Homo sapiens: one gene and its partner. The protein of the gene in region 1 interacts with the protein of each later gene in a biochemical or structural test. Each region holds a gene or a part of one and is shown on either strand. Other genes may lie near its edges.

Region 1 (3,500 bases):
CAGAAGGAACAGTAATACAAAATTTGGCTACGTTGCTGTCTGCTAGGAACAGTTTTCAATTTTGCATTAACAATAAGGCAATTTGAATCACATATTACAAGCAAGCATCTAAAATAATCTGTTTTTCATGCCTGCCTATCTAATAATGTAATGCTATAATTGTTCAGTATATCAAGAGACAAACTCCTTTAAAATATTTTAGGGCTGGGTGCAATGGCTCACACCTGTATTCCCAGCACTTTGGGAGGCCAAGGCAGGAGGATTGCTTGAGGCCAGGAGTTCAAGACCAGCCTGGGCAACATAGCAAACCTCATCTCTAAAAAAAATATATATATATATATATATAGCCAGGCATGGTGGCTCAAGTCTGTAGTCCCAGCTACCCAGGAGGCTGAAGTAGAAGAATTGCTTGAGTCCAAGAGTTCAAGATTGCAGTGAGCTGTGATTGCACCACTGCACTCCAGCCTGGGTGACAGAGTGAGACCTTGACTGTAAAAAAAAAAATTTTAGGTTATGACACTTGAGTCTTAGATTCTATGTCATGTCATTTCCATCTTTAGAAACTTGCATGTTAATCTCCATCAGCTTTAAACTTCTGCAGTTGTGTGCACTCTTCTGTAATCTCCCATTTCCACAGCTTTTCAGCTCTACTAGAAGGAGAGAAGATGGCAACTCCATCAGAATACTTGGCTTGGCTTGGCTTGCCATCTCTTCTGTTTCCTTCTCAGACTTTACTATTCAAATTGGAGTTGCCATCCTCTCTCCTTCCAGGAGGATTCATGTCACTTGTATACATTACCGCAAAGTTCAATAGCCAACTCTTCCAGGAAGCTATATGTAACTTTCTGACTGAGCTAAATAAACAACTTTTTCTCTCATGTGGCATTTCATTTTAAATAATCATATATGTATATATAAAAATATATACACATATGTATATACACACACATATATGCGTGTGTGTATATGCATGCATGTTATGGATGGATATTTGTGTCCCCCAAAAATGTATATGTTGAAATCCTAACCCCCAATATGATGGTATTAGCAGGTAGGGCCTTTGGGAAGTAATTGGGTCATGAGAGTAGTGCCTTCATGAAAGGTAGTGCCCTTATCAGAACAGGAGACAGCCAGCTTCTTTCCTGACTCTGTTCTGTTCCATGTAAGGACACAGGGAGATGATGACCATCCCCAAACCAGGAAAAATGCCCTCACCAGACACCAGACACCTTGATCGGGACTTCCCAGCCTCCAGAACTGCAAGAGATAAATGTTGTTTAAGCCACCCATCTGTACTATTTTGTTATAGCAGCTCAAACACACACACATACACACACACACACACAATCCAAAAATTTGAAATCCAAAATGCTCCAAAATCTGTAACTTTTTAAGCACCAGGACACCACAAGTGGAAAATACTACACATAAGTACTTAACACAAACTTTGTTTTATGCACAAAGTTATTTAAAATATTGCATGAATGGGCCAGGCACAGTGGCTTATGCCTGTAATCCCAGCACTTTGGGAGGTTGAGGTGGGCGAATCACTTGAGGTCAGGAGTTTGAGACTAGCCTGGTCAACGTGGCAAAACCCCATCCCTTCTTAAAAAATACAAAAATTAGCCAGGCATGATGGTGTCCACCTGTAATCCCAGCTACTTAGAGGCTGAGGCACGAGAACCCACAAGGCAGAGGTTGCAGTGAGCCAAGATTTCACCACTGAACTCCAGCCTGGGCAATAGAGTGAGACCCGGGCCAGGTACGGTGGCTCACGCCTGTAATCTCAGCACTTTGGGAGGCCAAGGGGTACAGATCACGAGGTCAGGAGATTGAGACCATCCTGGCTAACACAGTGAAACCCCTTCTCTACTAAAAATACAAAAAATTTGCCAGGTGTGGTGGCACGCGCCTGTAATCCCAGCTACTCAGGAGGCTGAGGCAGGAGAATCACTTGAACCTGGGGGGCGGGTGTTGCAGTGAGTCGAGATGGCACCACTGCACTCCAGCCTGGGTGACAGAGCGAGACTCTGTCTCAAAAAAAGAAAAAAAAATAGAGCAAGACTCTGTCTCAAATATATATATATAAAATACATATATATGTATGTGTGTGTGTATATATATAATATATATGTATGTGTGTGTATATATATGTATGTGTGTATATATATATACTTGAGACAGAGTCTCACTCTATTTATACATATATTTAGTATATATATAATATAATATATATATATATTGCATGAAATCTCTTTCCCTCTCCCCTCCCTCCCTCTTAGGACTTCATTTGAATCTCTTACTGCAAGCTAACTTTTATTAAAATGACCTTTGTATGAGTCTTCTCCTCCATAGATTGGAAGCCCCTATCGAACAAAACCATGTCTTACTAATTTTTTGCATTTGAATATAAGGTACTCAATACTTGTTTGCAAATATAATTTATTTTTAAATTTCTACCGTTCAAAGTTGACAAATTAAACATAACTGGGAGAATTTTTTCCACCATTTCTTTCTTGACACTTTCTGTGCTTTCTCTGTAGGTGCTACTCTTGCCTTGCGGACTAAATTTTCAGCCAGCCAGTTTTGGGATGACTGCAGAAAATACAACGTCACTGTCATTCAGTATATCGGTGAACTGCTTCGGTATTTATGCAACTCACCACAGGTAACACTCCCCCCGTTTTACTATCATTTTGAAATGGGTAAGATGGAAATTCAAGTCACTTTGGGTTGTGCTAGGCTTCAACTGATTTGCATATATCAGTTTTGAGTTTAGGATACAATTATCATGATAAAGTACTTGGCACTATACCTACCATATAGAGGGGACTTAGTAGGTGGGAGTTAATATTATTATTATGATGATGATTATTTCCTGCCTTTTTACTTGTTTTCACATCTTACTCCCCACCTAGCATATCCTGCATTTCCCCCTCTGCTTACTAAAAGCCAGTGTCAAAGCCCAGTTCAAATGATACCTCATACATTAAACATATTTGGGTCACTCCAACAAAAGTCATTACTCTTCTCCCCTACGTCATTTTATTTCTACCCTCTGTGGCCCTTGTCATGTTGCAGGAGTTTGTGTTCATGTCTCCCATCCTTCCTTGGCTGTAATATCTTTGATGGCTGGAACCACATCTTGTCTCCTTGTTTTCTGTTATACCGAAGGCATACAGGAAACTTTTACTTAATGCTGTTTAACAAATAAATCTCTGTGTGACTTTGAAACCAGCCAGCCAAGTCTGTCACCAAGCTGGGAACAGATGCCCCAGGGCATCTCCAATGGCCTTGGATCTGCCCTGTTTGCAGATGTTCAGCTCTCGATGGGGTTGTTCTCAAGAGCTCCTCCTGCCCAGTCCCTCAACTCTCATCAGAGATCTGGTATCAGATAGGATTTATCAATGGTGGCACTGCTGACATTTTGGGCTTTTAATTCTTTGCCGCGCGGACTTATTCTGTGCATTGTAGAGTGTTTAGCACCCTTTGGACTTTGC
Region 2 (4,019 bases), on another chromosome or scaffold:
TAAAGGTAGCTCCAAACCCCGCTGGGCGTGATGCTCTGTGGTATGCCTGCACTTTTCTTTCTTCAGTACGTACTTATTCCCGTCGCAATGAATCTCCACACTTTGTTCTGCTCATCCATGAATTCCTTCTCACGACAGTGTCAAGAGCCTGGACACCAGTCAGGGTCGAGGCCTCACCAGCATCTTGGGGCCTCACTGGGCACAGACGCGTGAGCGCCCGGCCTGCAGACCTGACTCTGGCAGCCGCTCAGGCCCTCAGAGGGAGAGATGGAAGCTGGCAGGACGCAGTTGCTACCGCGCGGACCCGGCCCCCGACCAGCCTTGGCCCCTCGCGCGCCGGGACAGGGCCACAAATGACTGCACCTGGGCTTCGCTGGCCCAGGCACCACGCGACTCTAAGCGCGCCCAAAGCGACCCTCTGCGCAAACTACCCCCGGGGACGACGTCACCCGTGAGGTCCCGCGGCGCCTCCTCCTAAAGCTCGGCTGGGAAACCGTCCGCTTCCCCAAGACTTGGGGGCTTGTGGCCGAGTTGTTTTAGTTTTCCTGTAGGATTCACGGGTGGCTGAGGCAAACACGCTTGAAGGCCTAAGACTTTTAAGTCTCTTCCGCACCCTCTCTTCTGTCTCTTCCACCTGGAGGATGACCGCTTTTTTGGGGGTTTTGTTGTTGTTTTGAGACGGAGTCTCGCTCTGTCGCCCAGGCTGGATTGTAGTGGCGCCATCTCCGCTCACTGCAACCTCCGCCTCCCGGGTTCAAGCGATTCTCCTGCCTCAGCCTCCCGAGTAGCTGGGATTACAGGCGCCCACCACCATGCCCGGCTGATTTTTGTATTTTTAGTAGAGACGGGGTTTCGCCACGTTGGTCAGGCTAATATCAAACTCCTGACCTCAGGTGATCCGCCCTCCTCGGCCTCCCAAAGTGCTGGGATGACAGGCGTGAGCCACCGCGCCCGGCCGGGATGACTGTTATTAACAATTCCCGGCGTGGTTTCTAGCACCAGCCCACCTACCACACCCCACCTCGCTTGAGGCTGAATGGGTAACAGGATGAACCCGCCCCTGGGCTGGTTTTCTCTGAACCCTAACTCCTGCCGTTACGCCCCACCAGCTCTAGGCCAGGAACTCTATGTGCCCCGGCCACGCTAGAGCCCGTACCTAGACCCGTAGGTCGGGAGGCCTGCGCCCGGCACTGCGCAGACGCAGCGTGCTGTGCCCAGAACTCTTCTGTTCCCAGGAGAATCAGGGGAGTCGGCGCCGGAAGGGGCGGGTCCGAGCTGAGATTTCCAGAGCCATGGGAGCCGGAAGTCCAAGGAACTGTACCTCCATCATGACGACTCCGGTTACGTAAAAACATTCAAACAGAAAATGCTGGCCAGGCTCATGCCTGTAATCCCAGCACTTTGGGAGGCCGAGGCGGGAGGATCGCTTGTGCCCAGGAGTTGGAGACCAGCCTGGGCAACATAGTGAGACCCTCCCCCCACCCATCTCTACAAAAAATTTTAAAATTAGCTAGCTGAGATCATGCCACTGCACTCCAGCCTGGACAACAAAGTGAGACTATGTCTCAAAAAAATTTAAAAATTACCCACGCCTGTAGTGTCAGATAGTCAGGAGGCAGAGGTTGGAGGATGACTTGAGCCTTGGGGATCGAGGGTGTAGTGAGGTATGATCGCACCACTGCACTCCAGCCTGGGCAACAGAGCAAGACCCTGTCTCAAAAACTATATAAAAGAAAAAAGGGCTGGGTCGGTGGCTCACGCCTGTCATGCCAGCACTTTGGGAGGCCGAGGCGGGTAGATCACCTGAGGTCAGGAGTTTGAGACCAGCCTGACCAACAAGGTGAAACCCTGTCTCTACTAAAAATACAAAAATTAGCTGGCCATGATGGTGGGTGCCTGTAATCCCAGCTACTGGGGAGGCTGAGGCAGGAGAATCACTTGAACCCCAGAGGTGGAGGTTGCAGTGAGCCGAGATCACACCACTGCACTCCAGCCTGGGCGACAGAGCGAGAGACTCCGTCTCAAAAAAAAAAAAAAAAAAAAAAAAACAGAAAAAAGGCCGGGCACGGTGGCTCACTCCTGTAATTCCAGAACTTTGGGAGGCCAAGGCGGGCGGATCAGGAGTTCGAGACTGCCTGGGCAACATAGCGAAACCCCGTCTCTACTAAAAATACAAAAAATTAGCCAGGCGTGGTGGCGGGCTCCTGTAATCCCAGCTACTCAGGAGGCTTAGGCAGGAGAATCACTTGAACCCAGGAAGCAGAGGCTGCAGTGAGCCGAGATCACGCCATTAAACTCCAGCCTCGGTGACAGAGTGAGACTCCATCCCCGCTCCGCTCCCTCACCTCCCGCCAAAAAAAAAAAAGAAAATGCACTGCAATAGAAAAATAAAAGTACTACACTTTGGTCAAACAGGGTAACTACTAGAACGTAAAATGATCTTTTTGAAACTATCCACATTTGTTACACGTGTTGAAAATGTAGGATATATATGTTATATATATACTTATATATGTTATATATACTTATATATGTTATATACTTATATATGTTATGTACTTATATATTATATATACTTATATATGTTATATCTACTTATGTTATATACTTATATATGTTATATATACTTATATATGTTATACATACTTATATGTTATATATACTTATGTTATATACTTATATATGTTATATATACTTATACATGTTATACATACTTATATGTTATATATACTTATATATGTTATATATACTTATATATGCTATATATACTTATATATGCTATGTATACTTATATATGTTATATATATACTTATATGTATGTTATATATACTTATATATGTTATATATGCTTATATGTATGTTATATATGCTTATATGTTATATATACTTACATATGTTATATATACTTACATATGTTATATGTACTTACATATGTTATATATATACATATATGTTATATATATATAATTATATATATATAAAACAAAAAGCACGGTTACTACAAAGAAAACAGGTAAACATTAAGTGGAGTAAAAGTATATCCTGTTATATAAGGGACTTGAACATGTCTGGGCATGGTGGCTCAAGCCTGTAATCCCAGCACTTTGGGAGGCTGAGGCGGGTGGATTACTGGAGGTCAGGAGTTCGAGACCTGGGCAACATAGCAAGACCTTGTCTCTATTAAAAAATAGATAGATAGATAGATAGATAGATACATAGAACATCAAAAGAGGGAGAGAGAAAGCAGACAGATGTGGCAAAATATACACAATTGGTAAATTTGGGTGAAGGGAATATAAGTTATTTCTACTAATCTTGCAATTCTTATGTATATTTGCAATGATTTCTAAATAAAAGTTTTTAATTACCAATTGAAATAAAGTAAAATAAGTCACTATCTAGCCTTTTCTAGACAAATATTTTAAACTCTTACACAGAGATAAGTTAATCAAGAAACGTATTTCCTGGAAAAACCCGTGATATGGGTGGAGCCACCTGGGAATAAAAGGTCGGAACATCATAATCACTGTCAGACTCAACTTCCATCATTCTCCTCCAGGCGCTATGGAGTCTAATCCAGGCACTTTGGAAGGCTGAGGCTGGAGGATCGATTGAGGCCAGGAGTTTGGGACCACCCTGGGCAACATAGCAAGATCTCATTTCTGAAAAAAGAATTATCATCCACTCACCCAGAACAGCTCTCCAAACTGTAAGTTTCATTCAAGGTTTGCTTGTTTGGGTGATGGGATGTGTGTGTGTGTGTGTGTGTGTGTGTGTGTGTGTGTGTGTGTATGTGTGTGTGAGTGTTGGAAGGAGGGTCTGTCTAAACTTAATGCCCTAAAGATATTGTCAGATATTGTGATGAGGGGAATTTCATCTTCTACCCTTTATGAGGTTGAATTGTAAATTCGAAAATCCTGATTCTGGGTTTTTATTTTGAGGGGATAGTTTTCTGTTTTCTGTGGCATTGGATATTGGCATTTTCAGAAAAGAGCATGCATCCAAAATGAAAATGATGA

Evidence for each region. The genes of interacting proteins can lie anywhere in the genome.
Region 2: the proteins of SLC27A2 (region 1) and USP29 form a complex in vitro, tested with the Homo sapiens proteins (one study listed by BioGRID).

The regions. Positions count from the first base shown.
Region 1 is NC_000015.10:50,202,696-50,206,195, forward strand, and holds part of SLC27A2 (long-chain fatty acid transport protein 2), read left to right. Parts: intron 1-2,543; coding exon 2,544-2,668; intron 2,669-3,500. UniProt on the Homo sapiens protein: Mediates the import of long-chain fatty acids (LCFA) into the cell by facilitating their transport across cell membranes, playing an important role in hepatic fatty acid uptake.
Region 2 is NC_000019.10:57,118,766-57,122,784, forward strand, and holds the start of USP29 (ubiquitin carboxyl-terminal hydrolase 29), read left to right. Parts: upstream 1-1,219; 5' UTR 1,220-1,464; intron 1,465-3,559; 5' UTR 3,560-3,709; intron 3,710-4,019.